Linked DNA regions of Homo sapiens: regions 1 and 3 are each linked to region 2. The links come from fine-mapping of genetic effects on gene expression. A gene starts in region 2. Each other region holds a variant in brackets. All regions are shown on one strand. Distances are from middle to middle.

Region 1 (8,489 bases), 45 kb after region 2:
ACATTTTGTTTTGTCTGTCACTTTTTCTGAACCTGTCAGAAAGAATGTTCCCAAACCGAACTCATGTAGATGGAGATTTCTTTTCCCAGAATTCTTCTTTGCCCTTGTGGCACCTGTCTCTTATTACCAAGCTTAAAGCCTGAATGTCTCTTTCACTATTCCCTCAAATGTTTGGCAAACATTTGCTGAGGTCCTCCTGTGGATGCCAGGCACTCAGGATAAAACAGAAGATTTAGATAGTGTCTTTTAGATGCTCACAGTCTCTGATGGAGGAGCCAGACACAGAAATAATTACAATAGGAAGAGACCAATTATGTGCTTGAGGTGGGCACATGGATGCTTTGGAAATAGCTGTCAAAGCCTATTTATCTTTGAAATGTTTCAAAAGTTTCCTCTTCCAGTCCTTGCAATTACCAGGTCAGAAACTTATCCTCTGGACTTCTGAAAGGGTTTCCTATCTGTTGTGTCATCACGTGGATGTTCTTCATAAGCCACTCATCCTGGTTGCCCATGCCCCTTCACCTTTCTGAAACATAGAGTTTCCTCATTGTTCCATGTTCAGAATTCCCCACGTCCTGTAGGCTAAAGTACAGATTCCTCAGTTTGGAAGTCATGCCCCAGCCACACCATTTTCACCATTCTTACCCATTAATCCCCAAGAGGAGCCTTGAGAAGAAGCCAGGCTAGCCTCCTTTGCCCCTGAAGTCATCCAGCCAACAGCCCATGTAGTTTCTTCTCCTGATCCTTTCATCCCTTTTCTCTCTTTCTTCAGTTGCTGTTCATCTTTTAAGAGTTGTGTTCAGGTCCCATCTCCGCCTGGAGCCTCTTTCAGCCTCTGCTGGTCCCTCCCTGTCCAGATCCTTAGATCCGTGTGCCACCAGTGGAGCTCACAGCTCCTACCTCACTATTTTGTCTCTCAAGCATGAGCTTTAACATTGTCAGACAGTACTAGATGAGATGGTCATGTCTACTATTGAACAAGTCTTGCCTTGGACAAGTTTCTTAACCTCTCTGAGCCTCAGACTTCTCAACTGCACAGCAACTATGAAGGTTTAAGGTGCCAACTATGGTGACCTGTGGGAGTAAGAAGAAAGGGGCAGGGGAGAGAATTGACCTGCATTAAGTAGCCACCATGTGGCAGACACTTCTGGTGCTTTACCTACATAGTAGTGTCTTTCAGTCCCCACAAGAGCTGTGAGGTGGCGTTATCCCCTCCCTCCACTCAATGAGGAATAAGGCGGCAGAGTTGAGGCAGTTCTACCCATTACTCAGCAAATATGTATTGCCCGCTGTGGCAAGAATAGAGTAATTAAGATGAGGTTCTCACAGAATTTACATTGGCATGAAAGAGATTTACCAAAGAATTCATTGTATACATATTAGTTAATTGCACTTGTAATGCTTTTTGACTATTCTACATAGGTGGGTTTTTAGCCAAAACATCACTTCTGGAGCCTGGTGGCTTCCATAATGCCCTAGATTCCTGCATTGTCAGCGTTCTTTCCCTATTCACTGTGGTTGCTTGTGTAATTATCTGGCTTCCCCTCTAGACTCTGTGAGGCCAAGTCCATGCCTGTCTTGTTCAGCATACCCTGGTGACTGGCCAGGTGCCTGACATGTGGAGGCTGATGAAGCCTAGGATTGAAGTGGTAACCATGAAAGCACTGCCTAGACTGCATAATGGAACATGGGAGGGCCCTCAAAGGTGATTCCTGAGTTTGGGGTATGTAGATGGGGATTGTCACTGATATCAGTATAGAAGTCAGGGAATGGAACTGGCCTACCACAGTGGGATGATGGTGAATTTGATTGAAGATTGATTTATCATGGTGGAGACTTCAGGTGGAATTGTTTGTTGGAGATGAACTTAAAAGTTTGGTGTACATATAGTATGTTTTGGAGTTTTGGTTAGTACTGATTGTTAACACCGTAATCCTTTGCGACTTCCAGAGGAGAATATAGCGGATCAACGCCTGGGCATTGAGGAACATACAAGAAATACATATCAGGTGGGCTTTTCATGCCTACCAGGTGTTCCATTGCCAAACAAATGAATTGGATTCAAGCCATCCCTCCTGGGTTGAAGAGCAACTGGTCACACATTCTCCATTACATAATTTTTCTTCTACCTAAGAAAAATGTTTTATATATATATTCTATTTTGGGTATCAGATTTAACCATTTATCCAGCACATAACTACTGAGCACCTACTATGCACCACACACTTTTCTAGGTGCTAAGAATGCAATAAACAATAAAACATCTTGACTTTTATGTTCTGGTGCTGGGAATTACACAAAAAGCAAAGAAGTGTGTTTATGTATGCAAATGGTGGTAAGTGCTATAGAGAAAAAATAGAATGATAATTTAGGTGCACAATCCTTTATTCTAAATTCTTGGTACCAGATGTAGTTCAGTATTTGGATTTTAGAAAGATAATATGGTACCTATACTGTCTGTTAATATCCCTAGTGGTATCTGGACCAACACTTCATAATACAACATTTTGGAAGCAAAGATCACAGGTAGCCCCATGTCATCTTAGTTCAACTTTTGTTGCCCAATGAGTTAAGATCAAGTTTTGCTATCAAATGAAATGAGTTAAAAGCTTTATTTCAAATTTGGTTTAGGTTATTGTTTTTAAATTTTCAGAGCTAACATGTAGTTCTTAACCAGCAGTTCCAGGCACAGTTCCAAGCACATTATATATATATATATATATATATATATATATATATATATATATATATATATGTATGTATGTATGTATGTATATGTATATGTATATATATGTATATATTAATTCATGTAATTCTTATAGCCGTTCTACAGTGTATCCATTAATCCCCTTTTCAGATGGAAGAACTGAAGCACAGAGGTTAAACAATGTGCCCAAGAATCCAGAGTCCCCACCCTCAAACACTGTCCTGTAGGGTGTGAGTGCTCGGGTTGGGGAGGGAGGCTGCTCCTTAAGGAAGAAGGTCAGGGAAGGCCTTCTGACGTGGTGACATTCATGCAGAGACCTGAAAGAAGTAGGGGAAGAGCCATGTGGATGGGTTGCTGAGGGACGCGGGGTGGGGAGTGGGAATATGCTTACTGTGTTTGATTAACAGCAAAGTGAGTGTTACTGGAGTCAATAGGATGGGAGGGTAGGTGAGTTCAGAGCAGTAGTGGGTGGCCAGACTTTGCCTTTTTACCTGCTTTCAGATATTACCGTTTCTTTGATGTCTCCGGGGTTGCCTGAGGCCTTATTAGTCGTTGGTCTATGGAAAGCAGTTCAATGAATGTTATAATTTGAATTGATTGGAATAATTGAGTGCTTTTCTAAATGCTTGTTCCATGAGATTTTCTAGAATAAGATGTGGTTTTAAATAGTCGACTTCAGCTTATACTCAAATAGTGTGTCTCTCAACAGGGCACTATTGTTATTTTGGTCAAGATAATTTTTTGTTATACAAGATTGTCCCATGCATTATAAGTTATTTAATAACCTGGCCATCACATATTAACTGCCAAGTCCTAGTGAAAGCTGAAAAAAATGCCTTATACATTTCTAAATATTCCCTAGATTTTATGCTCTGGTGGACAATATCATCATCCTTGAGAATAA[A/G]TTCGTTATGAACAACTGATATATCCTTTCATTTAATATATTTACTTGCTTTAGAATAGTGAGGCAGGATTGTAGAGAGCACTGTGGATTCTAGTCCAAATGAAGTGCTCATGCCCAGCAAATCTAATGCTCTGTCAGCAAAGTAGCAGACATACTAGTTTTAAGAATTGGATTTTAGCCAAAGGTAAATACATCAAAAGCTACGTAAATTTAACTTTTGATATTTTTCTACTTTATTATTACTGATCCGTATTAATGTTTGGGTTTGGAATGAATAACCCACTCCTCTTTATTAAGTACAATAAAATTAAAACAAATTCCCCAGAAAAAAATTATAGGAGTAATAAGCACAGAGAATTATAGGCAATATGAATTTTGACTTTTAACATGATAGACTTTAAAAAATAATCTAGAGCTGCATATCCAAAAAAGTATTATGATCACCCTTTGAAAGTAGGTGCTTTGGCCAAAAACATTGCCATTGCTCAAGTTTTCTTTCCACTCTTCCAAGTTCTTTCAAAATAAGTTGACATGACACATTAACAAATAAGTATTGTTTCTTAATAGACATTCTTTGTTTCCAGCCTTGCATTAGTTTTCTGTTGCTATGTAATATATGATCACAAACTATAAGGGGGCTTAAAACAATACAAATTTACTATCTCATGGTTCCCGTGGGTCAGGAGTCTGGGCGTGGATTAGCTGAGCCCTCTGCTCAGTGTCTCACCAGGCTAAAATCAAGGCGTCAACCCAGCTGTGCTCTCATCTGAAGCTTGGGAGTCCTCTTTCAAGCTCACGGTTGCTTGTGGCTGTAAGCCTGACGTTCCTGCTTTCTTGTTGGCTGTCAGCCCGGCGTTCTCGGCTCCTAGGTGCTGCCCGTGGTGGTCTGCTGCATTCCTCATGGGATGCTTCTTGGAGACCAGCAGGAGGATCTATCTCAGGAAGGACCCAACTCAGGCCCACCCAGGATTGTTTCCCTTTTGAGTAACTTAATTAATTGATAACCAAATTATGCAAGTGAAACTCTATCATATTCACAATTCTGGCTTATCCTCAAGGAAAGGGGATATACAGGCATGTGCACCAGGGGCCATCTTTCGATTCTGCTTTCCACAGACTTCACTGATGGAGTTCCGCTCTTATTGCCCAGGCTGAAGTGCAATGTCACGATCTCGGCTCACTGCAACCTCTGCCTCCTGGGTTCAAGCAATTCTCCTGCCTCAGCCTCCTGAGTAGCTGGGATTACAGGCATGCGCCACCAGACCACGGCTAATTTTGTATTTTTAGTAGAGATGGAGTTTCTCCATGTTGGTCAGGCTGGTCTTGAACTCCCGACCTCAGATGATCCGCCCACCTCGGCCCCCCAAAGTGCTGGGATTATAGGCATGAACTACTGCACCTGGCCCACTGATATTTCTTTCCTGGTTCGATTTACCCATCTTATTCTCCAATTTTGGCTGGAATTAATTTTTTACTGTTTCCAAAATTGGGGTTTGTTTTTTGTAGTTAAGCAAAAGTACCCTTGTACACACTCAAAAGACTGAACCTCTGGCTCCAAAGCTCTTTGAGAAGTTCTGTACTTTCTTGGAGCCAAAAGAGGCAGCTGTACTGGAGTAAGGGACCAACCCCGCAGCATGACTGCTTTGGAGAACCATATTTACTTGGGTATGTAGAGTTGTTAAAAATAATAGTCCTATAAAAGATTCATAGAATCACAAAAGATCTGATTTCCTAATCTTAAAAAATCTCATCCCCTTAGGAAATGTATTTCGTATGGTTCCTATTGGGTCTACGTAATATCTTATTGCCTGTTATGTCTCTACCCATCATAAGTAGAGGATGTTGACTTCCTGATCATTTGGACTTTGTTTCATCCAGTTGACATTTCACAAATGTGAAAACTGGCTACAGAAGGTCAGGAATTGGAATCTTATAAAAATGCTAGCCTTAATATAGTTTTTAATCTTCCCTTTTATTATTTTAAATATAAATCATAGTTTTCATTTCCTCTCTTTCATTATGTGTTGTGATTGAGGTTCTGACTGAAAACATTTTTCATAGATCCTGGGTCACGTTTTAGTATATGGTTGCCATAGTTACCACGTCACCAAGAATCATAAAATCTGCACCAAAACCTTTTTTAATGAAGTTTCTGTTGAACTATCTGCATTAGAAGTTTCCTTTTACTGTAGAGAAAAAATGAGTTTATAATTATCATGCTTCATTTCCTACCAGAATACTCATTGTGATCTTTGGTAATTATTCTTTAATGTTTGTGCCTTCTGGCAGATTGGCTAATATAGTGCCTAGTTCAGTACCTGGCCTGTAGTGGCTCAGAACTGAATGAATGGTATCCCCCTTAATCTAAATGCAGTTTATTTTCAGACTGCTTCTCAGGTTTTATTTTTTTCTGTACTGTCTACAATAACTATACTTTTCTTTCAACTTCTAATTCAAATGCTCCCCTTAAAGTGAAACTTTTTCTAGCTCAGCAGGCATAATTATTTTTTCCTTTGTGTTTTCATGGCGCCTTTTGCTTGGTCCTTTTTTCATCTTCCCAGTTTATTTTATTTATTTTTTAATTTTTTGAATATCTTCTCACTGCTTCTGTAGGCATCGACCTGGTTGCTTCTTTATGGGTCTCTTTGCTTCCCTGTGTCATGAGCTTCAGGTGAGCAAGGTGCCTGATCTTACTCATCTTTTTCTGCTTAGCATCTAACACTGCATGGCACATGGTTACTGACCAAAAATTATTTGAATCAGTACCCTTTTAAAAACTTATTTTTTTCCAATAGGTAACATACACAATAAAATAAATGGTATATAAAGAAGGTATGTCTTCCCATTCCTGTTCCCCAGCCACCCTGCTCCTCATCCAGAAACCACTACTACTAGTTGCTTGGGTTTAATAGCTGTAACCCATCAACATTTTCAAACCCAGGGTCCACAGATGGTGACATTACCCAATCATCCAGCATATTATGGAGGAAATAACCTGAGATAGAGTCCAAAGATCCAAGTCCTAATTTGAGATTGCCACTTACTAGCCTTGCCACTTAAATTTTGGAAAACGCATTTATACCCTTGGCTTTTATCTCATTTATGGAATCCCAAGGATGATGATAGAAAACATGCGGTTGTTTCCTATTAAACAGTATGCTGTGTTTAATATTAGTTCACTGCTTGATTTTTCATGTCTCTCATATTCATTAGGCCTCTTAGGATTTAAGAAAGCACCTTATAAAGCCTTTATCTGTTTTGCCTGTGTAACACATCCATATAAAATATATGACCTTAAGACGTATTCAAGCTAGGTGCAGTGGCTCACACATGTAATCCCAGCACTTTGGGAGGCCAAGGCGATCGGATCACTTGCGCTCAGGAATTCAAGATCAGCCTGAGCAACATGGTAAAACCCCATCTCTACAAAAAAAAAAAAAAAGGCGGGGGATGCTTGGTGGTGTGCGCCTGCAGTCCCAGCTACTCAGGAGGCTGAGGTGGGAAGATAACTTGAGCCTGGGAGATTGAGGCTGCAGTGAGTCATGATGGCACCACTGTACTCCAGCCTAGGCAACAGAGTGAGACCCTGTCTCAAAAAAAGAAGATCTTTTCATAGATATATAGCCTTTTCTAAACTAAATATGTGGTTATTTTTATTTTATTTATTTATTTTTTTTGAGATGGAGTCTCGCCATTCACCCAGGCTGGAGTGCAGTGGCATGATTTCGGCTCACTGCAACCTCCGCCTCCCGGGTTCAAGCGATTCTTCTGCCTCAGCCTCCCGAGTAGCTGGGACTACAGGCGCATGCCACCATGCCCAGCTAATTTTTGTATTTTTAGTAGAGATGAGGTTTCACGGTATTGGCCAGGCTGGTCTCGAACTCCTGACCTTGTGATCCGCCCGCCTTGGCCTCCCAAAGTGCTGGGATTACAGGCGTGAGCCACTGCGCCCAGCCATATGTGGTTAATTTTTAAATTGGTCACAATTACTCTATTTAATCAGGACAAGTACCGTCAGCCAGATTTATACATTCAGAGAAACTCAAAATTAACAGTTCACTTGAACTTATTAGGATGTTATATTAGCTGGCGATTTCCTCTTTTGATTGGTTACTTTTATGGAGAGATATTTATGGTTTTAATAAGATTTCCCTCCCATCTGTTTTGATCCTACCGTAAAATCATCCCATGTTTGATGGGCAGCCGGTTGTTAGGGAAATTATTGGGACATGATGACAAATGTGGTATTTAAATTTTACCACAGGACTAAGCAGGAGGAAGATGAGGTTTAAGAGAAGCCTTGGCTAAGAGGATAGTGCCTAGGTGTAATTGGCAAACCCAATGAGAACAGTTACGAAAGTTGTGTATTGTGGGTGGTCAGAAGCAAGGTGGGTACCTAACACATGCTGGATCACTGTTAGAGTTGCCTAGCAACTGACAGGCAATGCGGATAGTCAGGGATGAGCAGAAATGTTGGTGCTGCCACTTCGGGAGAAAACGAGACAAGTGCTTGACTGCAAAATCACTGGCTTTTTGAGGAAACATAAAAGACATTCTCTCTCCTCTGCTTTTCAATATTACTATGCAGTACTCCTTCTCTAATGTCTGTTGCTTTGATTCTGAAACAAATCATCTCTTTTTGTTCTCCTTTGTCTGAGTATTTTGGTGAAAATAAAATTGGATTACACAAGAAAATACTTACAGATGTCATTGGGTAGACTTGCTTGCCTGGCCCTGTGGCTCTAAGATATTGGGATTAGCTGGTATGCTTCATGTGCTTTGTTACAAATGATGGTTATCAGTACTAACGCCTACAAGTGACTTCCTTTATACGATAGAGATGACTCAAGGTCATATTACTACCCTCACCTGCCTACA
Region 2 (8,489 bases):
CTCCTACCCTTAAATGCTTGTATTCCCTAACGTTCTATCCTCAGACCATGGCTCTTCCTATTCTGCATACTCTTCCTGGGCAATGCCATCCAGCCTCGTGTTTTGAGCAACCACATGGAAACCAAGGAGCCCCAAGTCTATCTCCAGCCCTATCCCCTCCACCCAATTTCAGATTGCTACATCTCAGGGAAGCAGTAAAATCTAACGGTGGATTTTCACCACCATAACCTCAATAGCCAGCATATTATTTAACGAGTGAATGCACCTGGAATGCTCATAGCTGCCTCAAACTCAATGTGTTCCAATCGAAACTCACTGACTTCCTCTGAACCTACTCTTAAATTTTCTCTTAATTGGTGGCATTGCTATCCCTTCAGTCCCAGTGGTCATGTCACTCTTACCACCACCACATCCAATCAGTCATCAGGGCCTAACTTGTCCCACCACCCACAAAGTGTTCCTAGATACTTATCAGAGTAGTCTATCTTCTCTAGTCTAAATGACCACCCAGACTGTTATAGTTACCACTAGAATTAGGCCTTCCTTCTTTGCTCCCTTCACTTTGTTTTTCAATCTCTTCTCTTTCTTGGTATCTATCACAGTTTTATGTCTTTCTATATTAAACTCTGAACTGCTTCGAAGTAGAGACTGTGTTTCATTCATCTTTATATCACTAGCAACTAGCAAGTACTCCTTTTATTAAATAGAAACAATAAATTTCATTGTGTATGGGTGGGCACAGTAGCTTATGCCTGTAATCCCAGCACTTTGGGAGGCTGAGGTGGGCGGATCACTTGAGGTCAGGAGTTGGAGACCAGACTGGCCAACATTGGTGAAACCCCATCTCTACTAAAAACACAAAAAAAAAAAAAGAAAAAAAAGAACCGGGTATGGTCGTGTGCACCTGTAGTCCCAGCTACTCAAGAGGATGAGGCAGGAGAATTGCTTGAACCTGGAAAGTGGAGGTTGCAGTGAGCCTAGATCACGCCACTACACTCTAGCCTGGGTGACAGAGCAAGACTGCATCTCAACAAATAAATAAACTTAATTATGTAAAAAACTGCATGAATGTATAAGTGATTTATTATATAAGTATTTTATTGCTTCATGACCTGCAGTCAGTGAATATTTCATTTGCTCAAAAGCAATATTAAAAAATTAAACCCCAAACCTCAACCTAGTCTAAAAAAATCTGTTGAATTTCACAGAAATTAAGTGTCACCTGCATAATAAAAGTTCATTGTACAAATGACTAAGTTTATAGGTGACATGCTATTAGTAAATACCGTTTAGTGACCTGCGGTTACTAAATAGTTCATTTGCTTAAAAAATAAAATAGAAAACCTCACCTCAATATGAAAAGTAAAATCTGTTAAATTTCATGGAGTGTATGTACAGTATGTTACATCACTGTATCTGTCATTAAATTCCTCATTCTAAAATTGAAACCAAATAGACTCAAGGGTGATAAAGGCAAAAATGAGACAAGATACCTTTCCAGGTGAATCCAAGTTAAATACAATGCTTCACAGGCTGACTCTTTTCAGCTGACCTGCTTTGTAATTCCAACTGAAATGATTACAGGTAAACAGGAGAGCTGCCATTTCTAAGAGTCAGCCCTGACTACTTCTCTGAGCTCCATAATAAGCTTCTCAGTAACTAGGCAGCCCCTCATAGCTGAGCCACTCTGAACCCACCTGAGCTGTTCATGCAACCTACTTGGGTCAAGAGAATATATTAATACTTATTGTGCATCACAACTTCACAGTAAGTATGTTCTGTTGACACAAATAGGGCGGAGAGGCATGACATCACAGGGTCCCTGGCTTTGCTGGGCTTTCAATCTGACAGAAAGGCACAGTCCACTCATGAGGAGAACAGCTGGGCCCTAATTAACTGCCAAGCTGTCTGGTCTAATGAGAGTGAGGGATGGCATTCCAGGCTGAGCTCTGAGTGCTTCCTTTGCTTGATGGTGGCAGCTCAATTTCTTGAATCTGGACAATATCTTGACTCTGACTAATTCCAGCTTAACAAGAAGGGTGTTGTCTCTCGAATGAATGTAACAGGAAAGCAGAAAAGCATAAAGACAGGGGTGAGCAGGAAACTTGCCCTACTCAAGCAGGAGGTTCATGGAGGCTCAGCTCAACTCTCATTATTGGTGAATTGGTGCAATCTTTTCTGGAGAGCAAATATCTAACAAAATTTTAAACGTACATATTCCATGACCTAGCAGTTATACTTCTAGGAACTTATTCCACAGATATACAGCCACAAGGACATAAATGTGTGTATCATTGCAGCAATGTTGGCAGAAAAAAAAAAAAAACCCCACCTATATAACCCCAGACAGGAACCTGGCTAAAAAGAATATGCAACCATATTTTAAAATGCAGTAGTGGTGTGTGCTTTTAGGTTGATATATTGTTAAATGAGAAAAGCAAGTTAAAGTAGGCACAATATTTACCCATTTATGTTTTCAATAAAAGACTATGCATATGTATGTCATGGATAGAAAATTTCAGAATTACACAAAAAAACTGTTAATGGTAATCCCCTAGGAGTGGGACCCTCTGGTAGGCGGCGAGCGGATTTTATGCTCAACTTTATACCTTTCTGCACTGTTTTAATTTTTTGACCGTGGATGTATTTTATAAACAAAGCAACAAAAGTAAAACGAGAAAGAGACTATGTCATGTCCTATGTAAATTTCTCCTGTTACCAACACTCCCCTCTCAGTCTTCCCTCTTGGCACCTCTCTAGCATCTTGTATTTATAGTAGTTATTAGCAGCCTGGTGGTGAGATAGGCTTGTGTAGACTCCAGTGGAAAAGATTTCTACTTCATCTCTGGGCTGAGGTGTTAAGAGGAAGCTAAAATTCAGCACTGGACACATCTCTGAAATTGCTTATAAAGCAATTTATAAACATCCTAAGCTAGCCCTGTGAACTTTTCTTAGGATCCATTCACCTTTGATCGTCTACCCCATCCCCAAATATATAAGAAAGCTCTACCTTGGAGGGCTTGTACCCAAACAGCATTACAACAGCAGTTTTAAAGTCCTCTCTGCTGAGATATCCTTTGTGATCTTCATCACATGCTTTAAATACCTGAAGAACATTAAATAGCTTTAGTTAATGAGACAGAAATGGTTTATTTTTATTACTAGTTTATTATACAGTTTGGACCTCGAAAATCTAAAACTTGGCCCAGCGGTAGAGTATGAAAATAGAATTTCATTATCCCAATATTAATTCTCAAGAAATCTTAAAGATGGACTGAAATTTTCTTAAACATGGGCTGAAATTTCCCTCAAAGTGCAAACGAGTTAACCGCTAGGTGACGCAAATTAATTCATTTAGGCCACTGAGATAAATTCTACCCAAAATTCAGTCCTGGAGTTAGGAAGGTGAGGCAAAGGGGCTGGCTTTGAAAGGCGGGAGAGATGCAGACTCAAGGTTACCATTAATAGACTATATAGAGAGAAAGGAGATGGAACTTGGAGGTAGCCGTAGTCCTGGACGGGGAGCCAGGAGCCCTGCAGCTCCAGGATCAGTCATTAACCACGACCCTTTGGACAGGCAGCCCAGGTCTTATCTGCACACCCGGCAGAGTGAGACCCAGACACGGGAGAGGAAGCGAGAGGCCCAGGCCAAGCTGAAGTCCGAGGCTCAGTCGCCCTCCGGAAACCTACTTCCACCCACTTCCTGTGTTCCGAGGGACTGGCTTCCCACGTCCGCGACCTGGCTCTGGCCTCGGAGAAGAACATCGCGACTACAACAACCGAGCCCCAGCAACCCAACCAGCTACCACCGCTTTCCCAGCCTGGCTGGCAGCCTACCGCGGCCACGCCCACCGCGGCTCAGGAAGCCGAACTTCACCGCGCAACTCCGACGTCTCCTCCCATTGGACAACCTGCCAGCCACTCGCGTTAATCCCGCAGGGCTATTGGCCAGAGTCTTTGTTTAATTACGTTTCCTTGGAGCCGCCCTGGCAGTGAGGCGCCCAGGCCTGCCCCCAGCACTTGGCTCCACCCCCTGACTGTCCCTTAACTCGTTGAGCGCGGCTGGAAATCCAAGCGCTTCTAGGTGCTGGTTCAATGCCTGGTTCATGATTTATTTCATTCTCTCCCTCCATCTTGCAATAGGTTACTTTTAATCATTTAGATCTATGACACTATGCTAAACGTTATAGGAGACAAAAAGACTGTGAACAAACAAGAAGAACCAAACGAAAAGAGCCAAGTCCAGGATTCTCGTTCAGATCAGCAAGTCATTGGGATCGAGCTCCTAGGGCAGCTACTACATCTGTTATGTCCTCAAGATAATCCCAGCACCTAGCACTGTGCCTGGCACAAAGTAGATCTTCAATGAAAGAACGAAACGAGCCGTTATATTTACACAGATGTATTTCACTCAGTCCTCTGGAAGAGATGCCTAGTGTGAAAGAGATTCCAAGAATAAATACCATAAACAGCACCGAGCCCAAATCCCACAGCAAACATCCTTATTAAAGGCAAGGAACGTGGGGCGAGTTCCTTTTCTCAGAAGATTTTACGAGAACGCAACTGTTGCGAAGAAGGAACAGACATTCGAGGTTCTGAGTCCAATGGGAACTCATTTAACTTTTTATTTTGCAGCAGATTTCAAAGTCTGCACCCAGCCCCTCCCAGGACACAGGTCTCCTTGCAGCTGCCTTTAACCTAAGCGTATCCTCTCTCCACTTTAAACCAAACGCCGCTGCATGGAGCCCTGGGAGCCTGAGCCATGAGAATCCTGTAAAGAGGGTGAGTCTTGCTATTAGTTAACTAGAGCGAAGTTAGGGGACGCCTTTCTGGTTCTCCTCTCGTTTTAAGAAGTCTCCAGGAAGTAAGCCAAGAGCTAGGAGAGACCAGGTTTCCCCAGCCCCGTCCTGGGTAAACACCCGGCGGGCTTTAGGACCCAGCGGTGGGCTCTCCGGAAGGGGAAGGGGCCGGGCCTCGAGGCACAAGCCGCTGCCGCCAGGGTTTGAACTGCGCGCATGCGCGGCGGCCGCCGAAGGGGCGGGATCCGAGGCAAGCGTTGGTTCTGTGCGCCTCAGGTACGTGTTGGGCGGCAGTGGGCGCGGACTCGGTGCGGTCTCTCGCGGGCTGCGGTCGGGCCCGGGATCCTGCTCCTGGCCGAGTCGCGGTGCGCGGGCTGCTGGGGTCCGGCAGGGCTGGAGGCGGACCGCGAGGAAGCGGCGCGGCCGGGAAGATGGGGCAGGGTCGCCTCGGCCCCGGGGCCTCGGTTTCCTCCGATCACAGCGCCTCAGGGGGCGCGCACGGGCGCTGCGGAGACCTGTGTCCTGCCGGGGCGCGGCGCTAGGGGCCCCTGCTCGGGTTTTTATTCCCAGACCTAAGCTTACAGGTGCGTGGTCCCAGAAAGTGAGTAGGAAAGCGCCCACCACGTGCCAGGCGCTTAAGCTTTCTGTGCTCGGTTTCCCAGTATAGGAGGACGGTCACGGTACGTAGTATAGAGTTGTCCTGAGGGTGAAGCGAGTTTACACTTGGTGAGGCGCTTCGAATCGTGCCTGGCCGGCCCCAAATGAGCACGCAGTAAGGTTAGCAGCTGCTGCCGTCACTTCCTCACGTTCTGAATCTGCTCCGTCCCCAACGCCTTCAGCAAGAGCCCTCTCACTTCCTTTGTCTTCAACCCATTCTCCGCAGAGTTGGAGCACACAGCTGTATTAAAAAGGCAAATCGAAGGCCGGGCGCGGTGACTCACGCCTGTCATCCTAGCACTTTGGGAGGCCGAGGCGGCTGAATCACTTGAGGTTAGGAGTTTGAGATCAGCCCGGGCAACATGGTGAAACCCCGTCTCTACAAAAATAGAAAAATTAGCCGAGCGTGATGGTGGATGCCTGTAATCCTAGCTCCTCGGGAGGCTAAGGTAGGAGAATTGCTTGAACCTGGGAGGCAGAGAGGTTGGAGTGAGCCGAGATTGCGCCATTGCGCTCCAGCCTGAGCGGCAGAGCGAGACTCTGTCTCAAAAAAATAAATGTAAATCGGACTCCCCTTCTTAAAGCCCTCAGTGGGGTCCCATTGATCATTGCATAAAATCCAATTTCTTTAACAAGTCTTCTCCCCTCACCCGCTTCGGACCACTGCCTGCCTTGCCTAAGTCCTTTCTTATGACCTCTTTCCCACCTCTGCCGGCTGGGTTCCCTCTACTTGGGAATGCTCTTCACCCCATCATTTAGACAGCAGGTTCCTTTTGGCCCTCTGGGTCTCATTTATATGTTACTTTTTAAGTATATTCCAAAGGTCACCCCTATTTTTCTGTCTCATACTTATAAAATGTAATGAATGTCTAACTCATCTTGGCTATTAAAATTTTTATGTGTGGGTCTGTCTCTTCTGCCCTGAAATTAGCTCTGCTAGGGTAGAAACTATATTGTTAACGCCTCATTCCCAGTTTTTGGTACATAATAGCTGCCCAGTAAGTTATTGAATGAATGAACTCCAGGGGGTAAGCATGATATCCATTTCACAGACTAAAAAACTGAGGCTCAGCAGTTAACTAACCTGCCCAAGTGCACATTTACTCCCTAGTCATGGCCGGGTTTGAGACAAGGGACCATGTTTGCCTATTACTGGCCACACAGGAACTCAATTGAGGAGCATGGCCTCCAGGCCCAGCTGATGGTCTTTAAGCTCAATGAGAAGGAGCAGCTGGAGGTGAAAGAGAAATGCCCCAGCTGGGTCTCATATAGTGGGGAGTGAGGAAACACTAGTAGCTCTAAATGGAGTACCCTTTTATATCCACAACATGTTTTAAAGTCCTTAATAAAAGTGCTAACAGTGTCCTGAGCTAGCATTTGGTGGGAAGATTTCTTAGATTTTTCATGTTAGTGCAGTGTTTGCCAAATTTCACTCACACTCACCTGCCTTCTCCCCAGTTTGCTTTATTCTCTTAACACATGACACAGGATTTATTTCAGGGCCGCTTTGCCAGCTGGAGACCTCCAGCCCTGGGCTGGCTGCAGGAGGTGCCCTGCCCACTCAGCCTGGCAGAATGCATTTGTCTTTCATCCCCGCCCAGATCCCGTGGCCACTATGACTGCATGCTCAGCCCGCGAGGAGTCGGTTTGTGAGTGAGTGAGCAAGCCTGGAGGCCCGGCTGGCTGTTCCAAGTGCTGGCCCAGTCACAGGCTCCATGTAGGGCTTGTGGATGGCCTGGGTGTATGGCAAGTGACTCTGGTAGCAGATTCTGGTGTCCAGACGAGGGGGATGCAGTAGTGCCCAAACACTTGGAGACACCAGGCAAATAGAGATGTATTAACAGCTCTTTTAGTCCCACCATCTGCAGCCCAATGAATGGGGGTGTGTGGCAGCCAGCAGCTCCCTCTCCCATTGCTTCACTAGCGGAACGGAGTGCTACAGGGTTATAGCTCTATTTGCACTCGCTGTTTAGCTGGTCCGAATTTCTTGTCCTGCGTCCAAGAATAATGAGGTTAGGCTGACAACCGAAGGGGAAAAGGGCGGAGGTGAGTTTTACTCAGTGATGAGACAGTTCTCAGCAGAGACGGGACCCCAAGTGGATGGCCCCTGCCCTGACCCCAAGGTGGGCAGTTCGCTGGTGTGACTGAGTCTGGGGCTTTTATGGGCTCAGAATGAGGGAGTGTGTGCTCCATGGTTTGTGAGTATGCAAAAAAGGCTAAAACAAAGGCACCACTCAAAGGTGGGCATGACAATGTAAAAAACCAATTAGGGAAGGGTAGATATATGTAAAGTAGGTGAAGGGTGGGGATTGATCAGAGGAAAGTGTGCCAAGTGGGAAGAGGGGTTATCAATCCGGTCCGTGGATTTACCCAACACTTGTAGCTTGGCTTTCAGGCTTTAAACTGTCTTTGGTTTGCAGGTGGGGTTTCACTGGGGCCCTGCCCCTATCTGCCTAGGGATTTGTCTGCCTCCTGCCGCTATCACATAGACTATCATATACTTAATATTTTTGTTTGAATCCAATCATTCTTTTACATAAAATAAACTTTATTTTGCTATTTCAAATATAACGTAGCCATAAGATACCTTCTGTTGATGGTAAACAAAATTGTTGGTGCCTGCAGAAGAGCCCAAACCCTGCTATTTGTTCAAAATCAAGATTAAAAGCATTTCTACAACACTACAACTTTCTTCTTGATTTAAACAGGGAGTTTGGATTGGAATGGAAAGGGAAGTACTTTCATAATGTCAGGTCCCAATCACTTCCACTTCAGGAAACACTGTGCCGTTCTGATTGAGTGCCAGGATTCAGAATCAACACAGCTATATTGTATTCTGATTCTTTCAGTACCACTTACAAAAAGTGTGACTTCAGATTTATGCTGTACCAAGCACTGCCCAGGCAGGGAAGACAGATGATAAACAATTGAAGGAAAGCTCTCAGGTTCTACATTTCTTAAAACTGTATGACTTGATTACAAAGCACTCTGAAATGCTGGGCACCAGAGCCTCTATGAGGGAAGTAAATTCTG
Region 3 (8,489 bases), 65 kb before region 2:
GTGAAACCCCGTCTCTACTAAAAATACAAAGAAATGAGCCGGGCGTGGTGGCGGGTGCCTGTAGTCCCAGCTATTCGGGAGGCTGAGGCAGGAGAATGGCATGAACCCTGGGGGCGGAGCTTGCAGTGAGCTGAGATCGCGCCACTGCACTCCAGCCTGAGCAACAGAGCGAAACTCCGTCTCAAAAAAAAAAAAAAAAAAAAAAAAAAAGGAAAGTGATCTGCTTTACTCAAGATCTACTGATTTAAGTATATCTTAAAAATATCAAGACTGGTTTTTGATCAAACACTGAGGCAAATATGACAAATATTAAGACAAGATAAAGGGAAGTGGCTGAAATGCAAGTGTTACACCATATTATTCTCCATACTTTTCTATGTTTAAAATATTTCTAATGGACACAAAGAGATCAAAGTATGTATTTAGTATCTCGATATTTGGAAAGACTCCTGATTTATTGCAGTTTTGGTAATTTACAGCAGATACACAATTCTCAGAGACAGCCCAAAGAGTCAGAAAATTTAATCAGGCTTAGAGATTAAATATATCCATTGTTAACTTTTTAGTTAGCTAATTATTATAACCTAAACCTAAGGTCAGTCTGGATACCTTCTTCACATCCTAAATAATCCACAGAAAATCTTATAGATTTGAATTAACAAAGATCAAATACCATACTAATATAAACAGATTGTTTTTATAGTCTTTAATAAATTCATTAATTTATTCAACAAGTGCTCTGAACTAACCTGAACATCCAGAGGTATTCAAGAACAGACAACATCACTGCTCTCATGAAGCTTTATAGTCAAGCCTGACAGATAGACAATAAGGAAACAAAAACAAAAATCTTCCCTGAGATTTGCTAACTGCTATGAATGACATAAAACCAGGCAGCAGAGATTTACTGGGGATGGGAGATGGAGTGAAGTCACTTTGGATAGGAAAGGCCTCTCTGATGATGTGATATTTAAACAGGGAACTACAAATGCAAAGATCTGAAATAGAAGGTAGCAAACAACTAGATACACATGATCACATAGGAGTAATAAATTAGACATAAGCTTTCTAAGCCTATGGAAACACAGGGCCATTTATCATGTGTAGTTTGAAGTTTTGGAATTCTTTTTAAAAAGTAAAACTAGAAATAATTTGTTTTCTATCCATAAACATTTAAGTAAGTGTCATGCCTAGGTCATATAGCATGACTCCTTATGTGGTATTTAAGTAAAAACAGTACTAAGGTATTAAATTGAAATAAAGTAACACTGAAAATAAATAACAAGGAATCCTTAAGGTATTTACTGAAAGAAACCAGTAAAAGTCAACCTTTTTCTTACATATGTACCAACCATTTAGAAAAGACAACAGACTGTAAATATATTCCTGGGAACAGGTGTTATGGAATAAAGAAAGCAAACTTAGGCAGGGATCAAAAAAGCAGGTGACTATGAACAGTAAAATAATATTACAGTAAGACATTAAACATCTGTATCATATTTCAGCACGTGTTAACACTCGCATTTTTCTTGAAGCTATAATATATTTTCTTGGAAATGGATATAGCAAATAGTGAATCTTCTCATTTCAATTCTAAAAAAATAATCTAAAGTATACTTGTAGAGAGGCAAGCTCTTAGTTATCAGCTATATCCCAGATGGCCCTCTAGCAGCATTTAAAGGCCATGCCCTTAAGTCACTGTTCAACATACTGAGGTAGATAATACGGCCAATACAATGATGAGAATTACAAAGAAGGAAATAAAACAGAAAATGCTGTTGCTATGGTCTGAATATTTGTGCCTGCCCCAAATGCATATGTTAAAACCTAATCACCAATGTGATGGCTGGAGGTGGGGCCTTTGGAAGGTAATTAGGTCATAAAGGCTGAACCCCCATGAATGGGATTGGTGCCCTTATAAGGGGCTGAAGAGACTAGAGTTCTCTCCTTTCACCATATGAAGACTGTAGTAGGCTGTTCTTGCATTGCTATAAAGAAATATCTGAGCTTAGATAATTTATAAAGACAAGGTTTAGATGGCTTATGGTTCTGCAGGCTTTACAGGAAGCATGGCGTTGGCATCTGCTTGGCTTCTGGGGAAGCCTACAATCATGGCAGAAGGTAAAGCAGGAGCAGGCATGTCACATGGCCAGAGCAGGAACAAGAGTTGGAGCAGGGGAAGTGCTACACACTTTTAAATGGCCAAATCTCACAAGAACTCACTAACATGAAGACAGCACCAAGCCTTGAGGGATCTGTCCCCATGATCCAGACACCTCCCACCAGGCCCCACCTCCAGCATTGGGGATTACAGTTCAACATGAGATTTGGGTGGGAACAAATGTCCAAACTATATCAAGGACACATTTAGAAGGTACCATCTGTGAACCAGAAAGTGGGCCCTCCCCAGACTCCAGATTTGCCAGCTCCTTGCTCTTGGACTTCCCGGCCTACAGAAGTGTCAGAAAAAAATTTCTGTTGTTTATAAGCCACCCAGTTTATGGTATTTTTATTATAGCAGCCCAAATGGACTAAGACAGCTGTCCTGTCTTTGTTTATAAAACCATGGCGCTGTGATACTGTCTCTGTTTGCAGTTCTAATTGCTAAATTTCAGAAAATACCAAAAGGGAAATACAGAAAGAACCATGGCAGTAAATTAGTGGTCAAGGACCAGACAAATGGAAAAAACAATTCAAATTCTCCAACCCAGAAGAAACACAGAGGCAGAGAAAAGCCTATGAGATCAGGAAGGGTTTGCATGATAATTAGAATGATTTTTCAAATCTGAAAATTAAGAGCCATGAAACAACACTGAAGATTAAAAGGGGCTGTATGAAGACAATTTCTTCCTTTTTTTGACAATTTATTTTAATCACCATTTTAAGGAAATGTATGGAACATCTTATTCATGAGGTGAGACAAAATGAAAGTAATTTTCAAAAAAACCCAAATAAAGTATTGGATAAAATCATGGATTCGAAGCCTTACTATGAATCCTGTTTTACTACTTATTAGCTGTGAAATATGAGACAAATTTTTTAACTTCTCTATCCCTCAGTTCCCCATCTATGAAATGGTGATTGTGAGGATGAAACGAGTAAAGGGCTTAGAACAGTGCTTGCCAAATGGTAAGTGCTTAAAAAACTTCAGCCACACCTCCACATGTAGAAAAAAGTTAAGACAGCAGACCTGACTGCAATTCTGCTTACAAGCCTGGCCCTTGACTGGCATCTGGGAACTTGGATTTCAGGAAGGTTCCTACCACCATTAACTGGTAAGAGTTGATCACTGTGCTTAAAACTGTTTGTGCAGACAACATGGCTCCCACTGAATACTTGCTTTCCTTCTGCGAGTCTGAAATTTTGGCACATGCCAGACAGAGAATGCCAGTGTGATCAGCCCACAATTAAACCCTGGGCACTGAGTCTCTACTGAGCTTCCCTGGTTGGCACATTTCACATGTTTGGTCACAGCTTACTATTGGGGAATTGTGTTCTCTGTGACTCCACTGGAGGGGAACAATGGGAAACTGGCATCTGGTTTCCCCTGGACTTCACCCCATGTACCCTTCCCGTGTGCTGGTTTTGCATTGAATCCTTTCACTGTAATAAATCATAGCCATGAATACGACTGTAGGCTGAGTCTTGGAAGTCCTTCTAGTGAATCATCAAATCTAGCGTTGGCCCTTGGGGACCCATCAACACACTTGGACACAGTTAATCAATTATTTTGTCGTAGGTATAAGTACTATAAAATGCACTTTTATAAATATTGAGTTCAAGTTCAAGAAAAGTGATTTTTAGATATAATACCTTGATAAAAACAGAAACACTGCATGATTTCTTCTCATAAATAATGAATGCAATAAAAATGTTAAGCTTCAATGACATGATCACTAAATTACATCAGTATTTCCTAATACTATGGTTTTAGGTTATA[C/T]GAAAATAAATATTTAGCTTACAACTTCTAAATGATATTCAATATAAGAGCAATAAAAGGTCAGAAATACTTGGTCATATTCTTTAAACAGCAATAGAAGATAAAGTAAAGCTAAAATGCCAGAATTACTAAGCTTTAGAAATGCATTACTGATTTTATATATTTTCTATATCTCTTACAAATAAGTGATACTCTTTTCTAACACTTAATAATTCTTATTGTCTACCTAATAAATCAATATTTGGAAAGCAGAATTTAGAAGGAAAAGTTTGGGAGACAAAGTATTTAAGAATTCACATGAGTTTCTGTTTTTGGATACTCAGATCAACTCCCCACTGCAAAAAACTAAAGATGCTGGATAAGACACTAAAACAAAACCACCTTAAAAGGACTGAAAAATTAAAAAGAGCTGCCAGGCCAAATTCTTGAGGCTAGCTTGAACCCAAAGAGGTTAGTGGAAAGAAAGTTGGCATCCCAAAGCCACCTTTGCCCTGAAGGCATTCACTCACATCGTGCACTGGGGCTGCGGTCTGGTAGCCTCATGGGGAGACGAGGCCAGAAGTGAAGATCCAGGACTTTGCCAATTTGGATCATCTCACAGGATAACTTTCCCACATTAAGCTGAAATCCAAAGGACTACATGAAAGTTTCCCTGGTGCTGAGCAAAGGAGTAAGAGAAAAATGAAATAAAAAACGATCATTCACCCCTGAGAAGTTATGAGTGTTGACTGACCCTCACTGGGAGAGTCCCTGGGATCCTAGGTCTAAACATACCTTGAGTGAATACAGAAACTTCCATCTGTGGATTTGTTTTAATATAGTCCTGTACTGACTGTGCTACAAGGAGCCTGGCAAAAACACATAAACCACTCTGATTTCATCCTGGACTTGTGGAATTCCTCATAAATTATTTTTCAAGGTCGGTGAGCTCCAGAAAGTTGAATACAAACAAGTTTACAGGGAAACTAGTCACCATGAGCAAGAACCAGCAGAAGCAGACATAAATAGACTTCAACTAGAGGTTCTATGTTTAAAAATAAATAACTTGAAGTGACTTCAGGGAATAGAAAACTATAAGATGTAACAGAGGATTTTAATAAATGTTTATAACCTTTTAATACCTTTGTACTTTTAATTCATTAAAATTACTTAAGAGTTTGAGATATTATGGTAGAAATCAGAGTTTTTCAAAGTAGCAGAAAACAATGTATTGTCAGAAGCAAGAGGTTTCTGATTATGTTTATAATTAAAGTTATAAAATTTCCAAGGCAATATTTTATTTATATTAAAATAGCAAAATCTGTACCAAATATAAAAAGAGGGAATTCTCCCTAATTCACTGTATGAGGCCAGTATAAGCTTGAAATGAAACAAAACAAGAAAGGAAAATTACAGCTCCATTTTAGACACAAACACACACACACACACGCACGCGCACACGCACACACCACCCTAAGTAAAATATTAGCAAACTGAATCCTACTGTGCATTAAAAAGATAATAGGATAGGGACGCGGCCATGGAGGCCGAGGGCTGCCGCTACCAATTTCGGGTCGCGCTGCTGGGGGACGCGGCGGTGGGCAAGACGTCGCTGCTGCGGAGCTACGTGGCGGGCGCGCCTGGCGCCCCACAGCCCAAGCCCGAGCCCACGGTGGGCGCCGAGTGCTACCGCCGCGCGCTGCAGCTGCGGGCTGGGCCGCGGGTCAAGCTGCAGCTCTGGGACACCGCGGGCCACGAGCGCTTCAGCTGCATCACCGGGTCCTTTTACCGGAATGTGGTGGGTGTCCTGCTGGTCTTTGATGTGACAAACAGGAAGTCCTTTGAACACATCCAAGACTGGCACCAGGAGGTCATGGCCACTCAGGGCCCGGACAAGGTCATCTTCCTGCTGGTTGGCCACAAGAGTGACCTGCAGAGCACCCGCTGTGTCTCAGCCCAGGAGGCCGAGGAGCTAGCTGCCTCCCTGGGCATGGCCTTCGTGGAGACCTCTGTTAAAAACAACTGCAATGTGGACCTGGCCTTTGACGCCCTCACTGATGCTATCCAGCAGGCCCTGCAGCAGGGGGACATCAAGCTAGAAGAGGGCTTGGGGGGTGTCCGGCTCATCCACAAGACCCAAATCCCCAGGTCCCCCAGCAGGAAGCAGCACCCAGGCCCATGCCAGTGTTGACTCTAGGAGAGAAAGGGTTAAAGCAGTCCCAGCCTTAGCCCACCTGGTGGGATGGGGAATGTTAGTATCTCTCTGGAGGACAAATGACAGAAGGGTTCATATAAACAGTATCCTGACACAGTCATGCTTCCTGGATTTTAGAGTCAAGGGTTTCTACAGAAAAGAAAGGTCTGATGGCCAGGCATGGTGGCTCACGCCTGTAATCCTAGCATTTTCGGAGGCCAAGGACAGCGGATCACCTGAGGTCAGGAGTTCGAGACCAGCCTGGCCAACATGGTGAAACCCCGTCTCTACTAAAAATACAAAAATTAGCCAGGCGTGGTGGTGCATGCCTGTAATCCCAGTTACTCCGGAGGCTAAGGCAGGAGAATCGCTTGAACCCAGGAGGCAGAGATTGCAGTGAGCCAAGACTGTGCCACTGCACTCCAGCCTGGGCAACAGAGTGAGACTCTGTTTCAAAAAAAAAGAAAAGAAAAGAAAAGAAAGGCCTGAGAGCCCAGATGTGCAACTTCCTGTCCTTGAGCCTCAGTGTCCTTATCTATCGATGGGGCTCATAAAAGATCCCACCTTGCAGGGAGGTGGTGACCACGAATGAGATAGTGGACAGGATGTGCTCACCCAGAGCCTGCCGCGCTGTGAACTGAATGACAAAAGCTCTCATTCCCACTCCCTTTTTCTTGGCTGTGATGTGCCCACTCTGGCAGCATTCCTGGGCTCAGACACTGAGAAGCCAGCGTCAGGAAGCTGCTGCATGAGCAAAGGCAGGTGCGGGAAATTCCAAGGGGAGCTTGGCTTGGAGGCTCCTTATGTCCTCAGGCTAAAATGATTCTGGGAATGGGATTAATATGTGATGTCAAACCCAGGGTTGCTGGGTTTGCCCCCACCCTAGGCCCAGGGGCTGAAAAATGGATGTTGGAGGCTGGGATGAACACGAATGTGCAGCAACTATGTTGGGCACACAGTGGCCACTGTGATGAGCCACCAAGATCCCCCTTTCTGGCTGGGGAACCCATCAACCCTCTCCCCAGCTGCTGAAGTGCCGCTGGATGATGGACTTCAGCTTGCCCCACTCTCTGGGAAAGGCCCTCCCTTCAGGGCAGCCCGTATCCAAAGTCCATCTCCTGGGGGGCCTTAAAGGCCTTTCCCTCTTGCCCCAGCTCTGGACAACTCTGAAAGTCAAACCCAACTTTATCAGTCTCTGTGGGCTTCATTGAGGACACTGTTGTGACATCATAGCCAAGTTATCCCCCTGCCCAATCCTGCTTCCTTTTCTTCCCCAAACAGGTATCCATTTCAAGAATATCCCCTAATAAACATCTGCACACTCGTCTCCAAAAAAAAAAAACAAACAAACAAAAAAAAAGATAATAGGATAGTAAACTTGGGTTTATATCAAAAATATAAAAGATGAATTGATATTAAAACTATACATACATATACACAGACATGTTATTCATCATATTAATGAATTTCAAAAAATAACATCTCAATAGATACAGAAAAAGCATATAGTGAAATTTAATGCCAATTCTTGATTTTTTTTTTCTTTTTTTGAGACGGAGTCTCTCTCTGTCGCCCAGGCTGGAGTGCAGTGGCGCGATCTCGGCTCACTGCAAGCTCCGCCTCCCGGGTTCACGCCATTCTCCTGTGCCCGCCATCACGCCCCCGGCTTATTTTTCGTATTTTTAGTAGAGATGGGGTTTCACCGTGTTAGCCAGAACGGTCTCGATCTCCTGACCTCGTGATCCACCCGCCTCAGCCTCCCAAAGTGCTGGGATTACAGGCGTGAGCCACCGCACCCAGCCTTGATTTTTTTTTTTTTAATTTAAGTTCTGGGATACATGTGCGGAACGTGCAGGTTTGTTACATAGGTATACAAGTGCCATGGTGGTTTGCTGCACCTATCAACCTGTCATCTAGGTTTTAAGCCCCACATGCATTAGGTATTTGTCCTAATGCTCTGCCTCCAGTTGTCCCCCCCACCTCCGCCCCCGACAGGCCCCCAGTATGTGATGTTCCCCTCCCTGTGTCCATGTGTTCTCATCAATTCTTGATTTTTAAAAAACTCATGATAAACTAGACCAGATAAGAAATTCTTTAATCTGAGAAAGGATCTAACCCCTACGGCTATGATCAAATTAAGTGATAAAATATTGAAATCTTTCCCTTTGAGTTTCAGAACAAGACACTATCACCCCTGTAAGTCCTAGCCAGTGCATATGTCAGCAAAAAGAAATAAATGATATAAGGATTGGAACGGAAGAAATAATTACTATTTTCCACTGATGTCATTATCTTTGTGGATCCTTAAAAATCTACAAAGTTAACAAGGTTGTTAGCTAGAAGATTAACATACAAAAAGCAATTTCATTTCTATTG

Alleles and levels. Positions count from the first base shown, and alleles are read on the strand shown. Sizes are in standard deviations (SD) of each study's normalised expression.
As copies of G replace A in region 1, the expression in sun-exposed skin of the gene that starts at base 5,032 in region 2 goes down (small effect, 0.37 SD a copy in GTEx).
For the expression in cerebellum of the gene that starts at base 5,032 in region 2, T is the high allele of the variant in region 3 and C is the other (small effect, 0.33 SD a copy in GTEx).

The links. PIP is the estimated chance that this variant, and not a neighbour inherited with it, causes the effect.
Region 1: its variant is the best candidate, but not a certain one, in a credible set for the expression of TDP1 in sun-exposed skin (GTEx, PIP 0.77).
Region 3: its variant is the best candidate, but not a certain one, in a credible set for the expression of TDP1 in cerebellum (GTEx, PIP 0.62).

What each region holds. Positions count from the first base shown.
Region 1 is chr14:89,995,669-90,004,157 of GRCh38, forward strand. All of the region lies in intron 14 of TDP1 (tyrosyl-DNA phosphodiesterase 1), which reads left to right. Among named protein-coding and RNA genes, the nearest start is that of TDP1, 44 kb to the left of the region's middle. The variant A/G (reference allele first, on the strand shown) is at 3,612.
Region 2 is chr14:89,950,896-89,959,384 of GRCh38, forward strand. It overlaps TDP1 (tyrosyl-DNA phosphodiesterase 1), which reads left to right and starts at 5,032. Exons shown (of 17, transcript NM_018319.4): 1 at 5,032-5,075; 2 at 5,683-5,905. It overlaps EFCAB11 (EF-hand calcium binding domain 11), which reads right to left and starts at 3,835. Exons shown (of 6, transcript NM_145231.4): 1 at 3,691-3,835; 2 at 3,011-3,106. The coding sequence starts at 3,765. RefSeq lists enhancers at 3,564-4,064, 7,090-7,598 and a silencer at 5,130-5,359.
Region 3 is chr14:89,886,335-89,894,823 of GRCh38, forward strand. All of the region lies in intron 5 of EFCAB11 (EF-hand calcium binding domain 11), which reads right to left. It also overlaps the pseudogene RAB42P1. Among named protein-coding and RNA genes, the nearest start is that of EFCAB11, 64 kb to the right of the region's middle. RefSeq lists an enhancer at 6,473-7,028. The variant C/T (reference allele first, on the strand shown) is at 3,941.